3 linked regions of the Homo sapiens genome follow. The protein of the gene in region 1 purifies or fractionates together with the protein of each later gene. This does not show direct contact. Each region holds a gene or a part of one and is shown on either strand. Other genes may lie near its edges. The genes, in order: CEP83, POTEC and POTEB2.

Region 1 (4,234 bases):
GGTGGAGTTGAACCTTATAGAAAAGGTACAATTTAGATTTTAAGAAAGAAGGGAATAAGATCAGGTCACGGGGGATAGAAAGATATGCAGACTAATATGGAAAGGATAAAGTACAGAGCAGGTTTAGGGGATAGTGAAGAAACCAATCTGGGCAGAGACACCTTTTCCATAAAGAACATACACTTGAAAAGGCAAGGTGAGAGGATTTCAAATAATTCACCTTAAGTCAAGAAACATGAACTTGGGTTAAAAGGAAGTTTTTTACACAGATTTACACACATTCCCTAAAAGCACATAGGTTAAACAATGTGGGCAATTTACTTATGGAACCTAATATGTATGACAAAATTAAAAGCAAGCTCATCTACTTTTAGGCAAAGAGACAGTACCTGGGGGTGGGGAAATTCTGACAATTCACTAAAATTCACTAATCTTTCTGTTAAGATTTCACTCTAAGCTTCTTGAATTAGAACATCCCATGACATAATGCTGATTTCTGATTACTAAGGATTATACGAGTCATTCTTGATTTGTCTCCTCCATCTTGCCCAACTTTTGAATATTTCATTACTTCAACATCAGCATATAGAAAAAAGGAGGAGAGAACTAAAATTAAGTCCATGGATTTTAGCAATACATAAGGGTATCTGACATAAAGAACATTAAACTTCAAGTTCCAATTCCCATTATTAATAGATTTCAAAGAAGTCATTTAGTCTCATCATGTCTCAAATTTTCTCACATACTTGCTTACTTGAAAGGTTATTGATTGAAAAGATCATTCAAAAAGTGCTCTAAAAACTAACAACTTGCCATAAAAATTTTATCATTAAGGGTTCAATAAGAGGAGACAGTGAGGTGACTGGTAAACCAAGGATTAAAAACTACCTGTGAATAGGCCAGGCACGCTGGCTCACACCTGTAATCCCAGCACTTTGGGAGGTCAAGGTGGGCAGATCGCCTGAAGTCAGGAGTTCGTGACCAGCCTGGGCAATATGGTGAAACCCCATCTCTACTAAAAATACAAAAATTAGCAGGGCATGGTGGCATGCACCTGTAACCCCAGCTACTCGGGAGGCTGAGAGGAGAGAATCACTTGAAACTGGGAGGCGGAAGTTGCAGTGAGCTGAGATCCCACCACTGCACTCCAGCCTGAGCGACAAGAATGAAACTCTGTCTCAAAAAAAGAAAAAAAAAAAAACTACCTGTGAATAATCAGTGTTTCATTCTCCCAGTGCTGCATGGAATTCTAAATTGTATTTCACTATTATTTGAGAATGTTCTAAATACAGTCCGCGCACTTCATCTGATCTGGAAAGAAAACACTCAAAGTAAGGGGAATACCCAGCATACTCTGTCCTAAATAACCAAAGGACAACTCAAAACCATTTGCAACTCTCAGGAGAGTCCTGTGTGACACTTATAATTTAAAGCATTCTGGCCTGGTGCGGTGGCTCACACCTGTAATCCCAGCACTTTGGGAGGCCGAGGTGGGCGGATCACCTGAGGTCGGGAGTTTGAGACCAGCCTGGCCAACATGGTGAAACCCCATCTCTACTAAAATAAAAAAATTAGCCGGGCATGGTGGCACGCACCTGTAATCCCAGCTACTCGGGAGGCTGAGGCAGGAGAATCGCTTGAACCCAGGAGGCGGAGGTTGCAGTGAGCCGAGATCGCGCTACTGCACTCCAGCCTGGGCGACAGAGTGAGACTCAGTCATAAATAAATAAATAAAGCATTCTAACAATTCTGAACAAACTGAGTTTGAAATCAAACCTCAATACAAAAGGTGAGTATTAATTCTAACCACTTACAGGCTAAATTCATAAATATGGAAAATTCTAAATCCAGGTAACTGTAGGATAGATACCTTTAATTGTGTTTTAGTTAAATGTCAGACTTGTTTACAGACATGTTGCTTGGTAACAGAAGCACTGCTTTAACAACCCACTCTGTTTTAGAGCTGCTTAAAGTCTGAACAGATTATGAAGTATATATCATATACACGAAATTCAGACAAGTCTTTCCTTATCCTAGAGATCTGTAAGATTTGAAAGAGCTTCCTCATTTCAGCTAACTAAAGGCTTTACAAATACTTAGCAGTGGATATTCTTAAGAGCAAAATGCCCATTGATTATGGTCAAAAGTTGGACACTGAGGATTAACCAAAGTATTTAAACCCAGCATATGCTAACATATTTTAGGTGTTTATCTCAGTAATGACAGTCGACATCACTGTTCATTCAAATTGTCTTCAAAGCCAAGGAAAATGGTAGCATAGCTTTTTCATCGTAAATTAAGCTGGAGGTACTTAAACGTCTGGCCAATTACCAAACTGGCTACACAACCACCAAGCCAGAGTGCATCCAAAAGCTCCATGAAGAGTTTCACGTGCGTCTCTCTGCCTACTTTTCTAGCACGAGCTTCCACTACTTTAACAGGAAAATAAAAAAAGGATTCAAGGGCAGTTTGTGGAGGGACAAAATGAGTATTCCAAAATACAAACAAGACACCGTCCCCAGAAAGAGAGGTTACATACCAGACGCACGCACGCTCCTTGCAACCCGCACACGGAAAACTTAAGTGACCGCAGTTCTGGCCGCGCTCGCCACCGGGGACACCTCCACAGCTCCAACCACAGGCACCCACTCAACTCCGCTTACGGAGGCATTGGGACTAAGGGTTACGGTCCTACAGCGGGGTGTCGGCCCAGCGAGAGGAAGAGGGCCGAACGGACCCCTCGGGCTCCCGTCCCTAGGGAAATGTGAAGTATCCCGGGAGAGGTCCGAGGGCGGCGGCGGCGGCGGTGAAAAGCCCCACTCCTCCGCGTGGACCGGGATCCTCAGGGGTGCGGCGCCACCCCACGTGCTGACGTATGGCCCAGAAGCCGCCTCATCGCACCGCCCCACCAGCCTGGAGGAGCGGGCTCTGTCCCTTGGCCCAGCGGCACGCGAAGCAGGAAGTCCCACCCCCCACGCCGACGTCACCCACGCCACCGACGCCGGTTGCTGCCGGAGCCGTTAGAGGGAGGAGACAAACGAACCGAGGCGGGAGCGGCCACGGGTGACAGCGGCAGCGGCGGGGCCGGGCTGCGCTCCCGAAGGCGTTCCTGGAGGGCCCTGGGATGGACTCAGAGATCCCCAGAGCCCCAGGGGACGGAAAATCTAGCCCCGGGCACTTGCCTTGGAGTCTGAGTGATGCGCGTCGTTGGAGCGCGAAGCCGGTCTCCCTAGCCTCCGCCCGACACAGCGTCTCCAGGGGTTTTCCTCCTTTTCGCGCCTCTCCTTCCCTCTTCCCCACACCATTTGAGAGCCTCAAATGGTAGTCCTGCCGCCACCTCTCTCCCTTCGCCAGCCTGCCATCGTCCCCATGGGTGCAGATATGCGCTCCCGAAGCCGCCTGCCTGCCGCGTCTGCCTCGGGCATCAGCCCACGAGTGGGGAGTCGGCTCAGCTTGCCACGAGGGAACCTCGGGTTAGGACCAATCGCCCGGGAGAGAGCCCTCCTCGCCCCCGCACCTCCTGCTCCAAGTCTCCTGTCCTGGTTATCCCAAGTTCAGGGCCCACCTGGGGTCACATGGGGAACTACTTGTCTTAAGGCTGTAAACAATAGTTGGAAGAGGAGTTGCTAGCTTTTGAGAACTTCCATGATCATCCAAAGTCTGAAACAAAGTAGGCGGTCAGCCTTTCAAAATACGTGTTGGAAGAAACAGACACCTTCCCATCCCCAGCGTTTGTTCAGTGCCTTGGTTGGGCTTTGATTCTCACTGCTTTGTGAAGTACAGCTTATTTTTACCCCCAAGATTATGATTTTCAGGCTGTAGTTATTATTGGACAACTGAGAGGTGATTTTGTTGTTGTTGAAATGAGGGAAAACGGGCCATTAGAAAGGACCGTGTCTCTTAAGAGGAGGGAAAAAAAGGACAGCGAGTTGGTAATGGAATGTTGCTGGATGGATTACATAGATGAGACATGGGAGATAGAATAGAGAATCCAGAAATTCTCATGTATGTGTGCGTGTTTAGTATAATAACAGTAGCTCACATTTGCTGAGCATTTGTGTGGCAAGTACTGGAGTACTTTTTCAGGTTATCTTATTTAACTCTAACATTTCTGTAAGGTAGGTGCAATTGTTATCTCCATTTCACAGAGTTGCCCAAAACCATTACTTTTAAACGCTGGAGCCAGACAACTCCAGAAATCTCTGTGGTAGCCAGTAAACTATACATGACAAAT
Region 2 (4,375 bases), on another chromosome or scaffold:
GTGGTTCTTACCATCAAAGTGTCTATTTGAAAAGTCGCAGCAACTTAAACTTTCAGCAAGTAATATAAGTACCACTGTTCTTCACCCTCACAAACTTTGTGGACAGAAAACAGTATTTCATTCCTCTATATTTATTTATTTATTTTTATTTATTTATTTTTTTGAGATGGAGTCTCACTCCATCACCCAGGCTGGAGTGTAGTGGTGCAATCTCAGCTCACTGCAACCTCCGTCTCCCTGGTTCAAGCAATTCTCCTGCCTCAGCCTCCTGAGTAGCTAAGATTACAGGTGCATGCCACCATGCCCAGCTAATTCTTTGTATTTTTAGTAGAAACGGGTTTCACCACGCTGGCCAAGCTAGTATCAAACTCCTGACCTCGTGATCCACCTGCCTTGGCCTCCCAAAGTGCTGGGATTACAGGCATGAGCCACCATGGCTGGCCTTTCATTCCTCTTCTAACTTAAACAGAAAATAGTCTTTCATTCCTCTTCTAACTTAAATTCCTTCTCTTAGCAGGAATGCTATGTTTTCCTATGTGCACAGGTCACTGGTAGACATGCAAAAAAGTACCTTGCCCAATTTTAAATTGAGCTTATTTTATTATATCTGCATATATATGCCGGTTTCAGAGGCTCATGACTGTAATCTCAGCACTTTGGGAGGCTGAGGTGGGTGGATCACAAGGACAGGAGTTCAAGACCAGCCTGGCAAAGATGGTGAAATCCCGTCTTAAGAACACAAAAAAGTAGCCAGGCATGGTGGTGGGTGCCTGTAATCCCAGCTACTTGGTAGGCTGAGGCAGAGAATTACTTGAACCAGGAACCAGAGGTTGTAGTGAGCTGATATTGCACCACTGCACTCCAGCCTGGGCCATGGAGTGAGAGTCTGTCTCAGAAAAATAAATAAATATTTGCACATATAAATAGGCATTTGTGTTTTCTTCTGGTACTTTTCTCCTTTTGTATCTTTAAAATTTTTAATCTATACTCCAGGAACTTATTTTTGTGACATAAAAATCTAGGTAGTTTTCTCCAAACAGCATGCATTTAATTTATGAATAATTCACCTTGTTTTACCAATATGAAACATCACCATTATCAAGTGCTAAATTCTTACATATATTTGGGTATTTCTGGATTTCCTATTCTGTTCTGTTCATTTATGTCTTTTCAGCTGTTAGTAAACAATTTGTGGAAATAACACATGCACATTTTGATATCTGGAAAAGCAAGTCTTTTTCCATTCTGTTACAAAAAATCAATTTATCACAATGATAAAATACATCATGTGCAATTTAAAGACACTAAGACTTTGCTATTTTTATTTGGCTTATGTAAAAGTGATAAACACAGAAAAAGCTCACATCTTAAGAAAAACGAACCTTCCTATTCAAAGATATGAACCATACTTCCCATTTCAGTTTCCTTTTAAGGTTACTCAGTAAAGAACGTATTTACATAGGGCACATCGATATAAAATCCATATTGGATTTTATTTGAAAAATATTTAGCCCAGAAGTTGATATATTATGGGGCTTAGTTCTCAATATACACCTTTCTATAGTGTATAGAACATTGTTTTAAAATGTGTACATTAAAAATAATCTGCTGCATTGACTTAATTTTGCGAGTTAAATCACTTTAAAACCGTCTATTAGTGTTCTATAAGGGAAATTATAATTGGATTGAAAATCAGCTAACATTTTTTGTGTTGCTGTTTATAAAGGGACCTGGGCCCTGACCTCTCTGAGGTTTCCACACCCAGGGTGGTGTGGGGCCTGCGGAGGAAGAGAAAGCCTGGCTCCTCCCTCCCTGCGCCAGGAGGGTATGTCCCCATCATCCCCCCATGTCCCGCCTCCTCCCATCCCAGGCCCAGTTACCTCTTTTGCTTGTCCCTCTTGTTCATGTCCGTGTCCCTGAGCATGACGATGAGATCCTTTCTGGGGACCTTACCCCACCAGGCAGCTCTGTGGAGCTTGTCCAGATCTTCTCGACGGACGTGGTACCTCGGCTCCATGAAGGCGCTGTCGTCGTAGTCTCCCCAAGCGCCCACGTTGCTCTTGCCGCTCCCCCTGCAGCAGGGGAAGCAGTGACAGCACCACTTGCCCATCTTGCTCCTGAGCGTCTTCATAAAGGAGTTGTCATGGTCTCCAGAAGTGCCCACGTTGCTCGTGCCGCTCCCCCTGCAGCAGGGGAAGCAGTGGTGGCAACACTTGCCCATCTTGCTCCTGAGCATCTTCATAAAGGAGTCGTCGTGGTCTCCAGAAGTGCCCATGTTGCTCTTGCCGCTCCCCTTGCAGCAGGGGAAGCGGTGGTGAAACCACTTGCCCATCTTGCTCCTGAGATCGAATGGCTTCTTCACAGCAGAGGCAGCGGGCATTGAACAAACCTCAGTCACCATCTGCTTTTAACAGCCCGGGGAGGCCGGTAGTAGCGAACAGATCGCGTCTACCAACCAGTTTCACCAACTAGCAGGAAACCCTGGGTTTCCAATCTGTTTGAAGAGAAAGGTCAATCCCAGCCAAAACTTGCCAACCCCAGCAAGGGAGCCCAGTCCACCCCACCCAGGGAAAACCCACACCCACCCGGGGAAAGCCCACGCCCACCAGGGGGACCCAACGCCCACCCCAGGAAAGGCCAAGCCCCCCCTCCCAAGGAAACACCCAGCCCAGTCAAGGGAATGCCAAACCCAGCAGAGAAAAAGTCAAGCCCAGCAAAGGAATGCGAGGGAGGAAACGCCAATCCAAGCAAGAAACACCAGGCAAAGCGACTAACGCCAAGCCAAGCTAGGAACGCAAGGCCAAGCGAGGAACGCAAAGCGAAGCGTACCCGTTACAGGTAAGCCAAGCCGTTATGCGCGTGCGGGGCGCGCGTGCGGGGCGCGCGTGAGGCGTGCGCGCCTCAGACGTTACGCGGCGTGCGCGTGAGGCGTGCGCGCGTCATTGCACGTGGTGCAGGAAGTGGCCGATGTGTGCAATCCGGGTGCGCAAGTCTTGGCGCCACAAATGTCAGTGACAGCCTTGCGTTACTGGCAAAGTTCATGGGAGTTGGCCCAGCTTTCGGGCCACTGAGGAGAAGCCTGTGGTGGGAAAAAGCCTCTTGAAGCAGGACTGGGGCTAGAGCGCCTGGAACTCGAAGATGCTGACAGCCTCCTCTGAAGAAAGCCCCCAAGACACTAGTGGTGGTGCTGTTGCGGGTGGCCGCCGCTGCAGCTTAGAGCTCTGGTTGGCGGAGCTGGATGCAAATGGCCTCAAAATCTCCGAGCACAAGACGCCCACGGAGCCCAGGGCCTGCCTGAGGCGCCTTCCACACCTGCTCCTCCTTGGTCCGCACCCAGAACACAGGGTCATCAGCAACGGGGCACTCGGGGCCACAGAATCGGGGCTGGGCTGCTAGCTCCTGCTGTGGTGCCCCCTGCCTGGTGTCCAAACCAGGGCCAACAGCTGTGGGGCTTCTGGCCCGGGGTGCTTCGCTTCACTGGCATGCAGTAGGGTTGAGGTGCAGGCCGCTGTCTCCAGGCCTGCAAGAGGGAGCTGGGAGGAGCACCTACCACTGATGGGGAGATGCAGGAAGGCACCCCCACGTGCAGATCCTGGGAACAGGACACTGCCAGCACCAGGGAGCCAGATCGGAGCCTCCCTGGCAGCCTGTGAGCTGGACCCAGGCAGTGGCACCTCGACCCTCCTGCTGGGACCCTCCTGCTGTGCAGGCTTATGTAGCCAGGCTCCAGGCTGCTTCACCCATACTGCAGGTGCTTTGGTGTGGGAGGAAAAATGCATTCTGGCCGGGCACTGTGGCTCACGCCTGTAATCCCAGCACTTTGGGAGGCTGAGGCGGGCGGATCATAAGGTCAGGAGATAAAGACCATCCTGGCTAACACGGTGAAACCTCATCTCTACTAAAAATACAAAATACTAGCGGGCATGGTGGTGGGCGCCTGTAGTCCCAGCTACTCGGGAGGCAGGAGAATGGCGTGAACCCGGGAGGCCGAGCTTGCAGTGAGCCGAGATCGCATCACTGCAACCTGGGCGACAAAGCAAGGCTCTGTCAAAAAAAGAGAGAGAGAGAGAGAGACGGAGAGAAAGAGAGAAAAATGGATTCTAAGCCTGGGACACCGACCTGCTCTTGCCAACAAAAGCAGAGGGGAAGCCAATTACAAGTGCAAAAAAAAAGTTTTTATTTCAGTGGGATGAATGTCTAGGTGTGCAGTCACTGGAGTAAACGTCACTGGGACATGATGTGTAATTCTTTGTGTACATCGCTGAGTTCTGCTGCTAATGTTGTTAAGAATTGGTGTATCCATGTTCAAGAGAATTACCGGGCTATAGTTTACTTTTTTGTACTATTTTGATATCAGAGTAATGTTAGCTTCATA
Region 3 (4,009 bases), on another chromosome or scaffold:
CAGAAGATAGCCATCCACAGGTATAAAAATAAATAATAGAATGTAAGAAATTATTTGTATCTATGCAAGTAGCATATTCCTTCTCTTCCCAAGGATTATTTCATTACTAATGAAACTTAACTAAAACTTTGCAGATGTTCATTGCAGAAATCACAGATAAGAGAAAGGGAAAAACTTCACTTACAAATCCCCAGAAATAAGTTTGATTATATTTTCCACATATTTCCAGCTAACACAAGAGCAGATTCTATTTGTGTATATGTATAACAAACTGATTTTTTCTCACTTGATACAGCAAAGTACATCTCTGCATGCCGACATATCTCTGTATCTACTGACACCCTCAATGGTTACATATTATTCCATCCTATGGATGCACTGAAATTTGTTCATAAAATCTTTATATGAGTTCTTCTCAATACATGGCTATTTTAAGCAATACTAAGAAAAACAGCTGTGTCTGTTTCATATAGATATTTCGGTATAATGGAACAGATGGGTAAAAGGCATACACATTTTAAAAATGTGGTTCTTACCATCAAAGTGTCTATTTGAAAAGTCGCAGCAACTTAAACTTTCAGCAGGTATATAAGTACCACTGTTCTTCACCCTCACAAACTTTGTGGACACAAAACAGTATTTCATTCCTTTATATTTATTTATTTATTTTTATTTATTTATTTTTTTGAGATGGAGTCTCACTCCATCACCCAGGCTGGAGTGTAGTGGTGCAATCTCAGCTCACTGCAACCTCTGTCTCCCTGGTTCAAGCAATTCTCCTGCCTCAGCCTCCTGAGTAGCTAGGATTACAGGTGCATGCCACCATGCCCAGCTAATTCTTTGTATTTTTAGTAGAAACGGGTTTCACCATGCTGGCCAGGCTAGTATCAAACTCCTGACCTCGTGATCCACCTGCCTTGGCCTCCCAAAGTGCTGGGATTACAGGCATGAGCCACCATGGCTGGCCTTTCATTCCTCTTCTAACTTAAACAGAAAATAGTCTTTCATTCCTCTTCTAACTTAAATTCCTTCTCTTAGCAGGAATGCTATGTTTTCCTATGTACACAGGTCACTGGTAGACATGCAAAAAAGTACCTTGCCCAATTTTAAATTGAGCTTATTTTATTATATCTGCATATATATGCCGGTTTCAGTGGCTCATGACTGTAATCTCAGCACTTTGGGAGGCTGAGGTGGGTGGATCACAAGGACAGGAGTTCAAGACCAGCCTGGCAAAGATGGTGAAATCCCGTCTTGATTAAGAACACAAAAAATTAGCCAGGCATGGTGGTGGGTGCCTGTAATCCCAGCTACTTGGTAGGCTGAGGCAAAGAATTACTTGAACCAGGAACCAGAGGTTGTAGTGAGCTGATATTGCACCACTGCACTCCAGCCTGGGCTATGGAGTGAGAGTCTGTCTCAGAAAAATAAATAAATATTTGCACATATAAATAGGCATTTGTGTTTTCTTCTGGTACTTTTCTCCTTTTGTATCTTTAAAATTTTTAATCTATACTCCAGGAACTTATTTTTGTGACATAAAAATCTAGGTAGTTTTCTCCAAACAGCATGCATTTAATTTATGAATAATTCACCTTGTTTTACCAATATGAAACATCACCATTATCAAGTGCTAAATTCTTACATATATTTGGGTATTTCTGGATTTCCTATTCTGTTCTGTTCACTTATGTCTTTTCAGCTGTTAGTAAACAATTTGTGGAAATAACACACGCACATTTTGATATCTGGAAAAGCAAGTCTTTTTCCATTCTGTTACAAAAAATCAATTTATCACAATGATAAAATACATCATGTGCAATTTAAAGACACTAAGACTTTGCTATTTTTATTTGGCTTATGTAAAAGTGATAAACACAGAAAAAGCTCACATCTTAAGAAAAACGAACCTTCCTATTCAAAGATATGAACCATACTTCCCATTTCAGTTTCCTTTTAAGGTTACTCAGTAAAGAACGTGTTTACATAGGGTACACATCGATATAAAATCCATATTGGATTTTATTTGAAAAATATTTAGCCCAGAAGTTGATATATTATGGGACTTAGTTCTCAATATACACCTTTCTATAGTGTATAGAACATTGTTTTAAAATGTGTACATTAAAAATAATCTGCTGCATCGACTTAATTTTGCGAGTTAAATCACTTTAAAACCGTCTATTAGTGTTCTATAAGGGAAATTATAATTGGATTGGAAATCAGCTAAAGTTTTGTTTTTGTGTTGCTGTTTATAAAGGGACCTGGGCCCTGACATCTCTGAGGTTTCCACACCCAGGGTGGTGTGGGGCCTGCGGAGGAAGAGAAAGCCTGGCTCCTCCCTCCCTGCGCCAGGAGGGTATGTCCCCATCATCCCCCCATGTCCCGCCTCCTCCCATCCCAGGCCCGGTTACCTCTTTTGCTTGTCCCTCTTGTTCATGTCAGTGTCCCTGAGCATGACGATGAGATCCTTTCTGGGGACTTTACCCCACCAGGCAGCTCTGTGGAGCTTGTCCAGATCTTCTCGACGGACGTGGTACCTCGGCTCCATGAAGGCGCTGTCGTCGTAGTCTCCCCAAGTGCCCACGTTGCTCTTGCCGCTCCCCCTGCAGCAGGGGAAGCAGTGACAGCACCACTTGCCCATCTTGCTCCTGAGTGTCTTCATAAAGGAGTCGTCATGGTCTCCAGAAGTGCCCACATTGCTCGTGCCGCTCCCCCTGCAGCAGGGGAAGCGGTGGTGGCACCACTTGCCCATCTTGCTCCTGAGATCAAATGGCTTCTTCACAGCAGAGGCAGCGGGCATTGAACAAACCTCAGCCACCATCTGCTTTTAACAGCCAGGGGAGGCCGGTAGTAGCGAACAGATCGCGTCTACCAACCAGTTTCACCAACTAGCAGGAAACCCTGGGTTTCCAATCTGTTTGAAGAGAAAGGTCAATCCCAGCCAAAACTTGCCAACCCCAGCAAGGGAGCCCAGCCCACCCCACCCAGGGAAAACCCACACCCACCCGGGGAAAGCCCACGCCCACCAGGGGGACCCCACGCCCACCCCAGGAAAGGCCAAGCCCCCCCTCCCAAGGAAACACCCAGCCCAGTCAAGGGAATGCCAAACCCAGCAGAGAAAAGGTCAAGTCCAGCAAAGGAATGCGAGGGAGGAAACGCCAATCCAAGCAAGAAACACCAGGCAAAGCTACTAACAGCCAAGCCAAGCTAGGAACGCAAGGCCAAGCGAGGAACGCGAAGCGAAGCGTACCCGTTACAGGTAAGCCAAGCCGTTATGCGCGTGCGGGGCGCGCGTGCGGGGCGCGCGCCTCAGACGTTATGCGGCGTGTGCGTGAGGCGTGCGCGTGTCATTGCACGTGGTCCAGGAAGTGGCCGATGTGTGCAATCCGCGTGCGCAAGTCTTGGCGCCACAAATGTCAGTGACAGCCTTGCGTTACTGGCAAAGTTCATGGGAGTTGGCCCAGCTTTCTGGCCACTGAGGAGAGAAGCCTGTGGTGGGAAAAAGCCTCTTGAAGCAGGACTGGGGCTAGAGCGCCTGGAACTCGAGGATGCTGACAGCCTCCTCTGAAGAAAGCCCCCAAGACACTAGTGGTGGCGCTGTTGCGGGTGGCCGCCGCTGCAGCTTAGAGCTCTGGTTGGCGGAGCTGGATGCAAATGGCCTCAAAATCTCCAAGCACAAGACGCCCACGGAGCCCAGGGCCTGCCTGAGGCGCCTTCCACACCTGCTCCTCCTTGGTCCGCACCCAGAACACAGGGCCATCAGCAACGGGGCACTCGGGGCCACAGAATCGGGGCTGGGCTGCTAGCTCCTGCTGTGGTGCCCCCTGCCTGGTGTCCAAACCAGGGCCAACAGCTGTGGGGCTTCTGGCCCGGGGTGCTTCGCTTCACTGGCATGCAGTAGGGTTGAGGTGCAGGCCGCTGTCTCCAGGCCTGCAAGAGGGGGCTGGGAGGAGCACCTACCACTGATGGGGAGATGCAGGAAGGCACCCCCACGTGCAGATCCTGG

What was found.
Region 2: the proteins of CEP83 (region 1) and POTEC purify together in Homo sapiens (affinity purification with mass spectrometry; 2 studies listed by BioGRID and IntAct, with this or other methods). This does not show direct contact.
Region 3: the proteins of CEP83 (region 1) and POTEB2 purify together in Homo sapiens (affinity purification with mass spectrometry, with the first as the bait; 2 studies listed by BioGRID). This does not show direct contact.

The regions. Positions count from the first base shown.
Region 1 is NC_000012.12:94,457,018-94,461,251, forward strand, and holds the start of CEP83 (centrosomal protein of 83 kDa), read right to left. Parts: upstream 2,851-4,234; 5' UTR 2,540-2,850; intron 1-2,539. UniProt on the Homo sapiens protein: Component of the distal appendage region of the centriole involved in the initiation of primary cilium assembly.
Region 2 is NC_000018.10:14,540,746-14,545,120, forward strand, and holds the start of POTEC (POTE ankyrin domain family member C), read right to left. Parts: upstream 2,856-4,375; 5' UTR 2,402-2,855; coding exon 1,881-2,401; intron 1-1,880.
Region 3 is NC_000015.10:20,863,458-20,867,466, forward strand, and holds the start of POTEB2 (POTE ankyrin domain family member B2), read right to left. Parts: upstream 2,858-4,009; 5' UTR 2,825-2,857; coding exon 2,415-2,824; intron 1-2,414.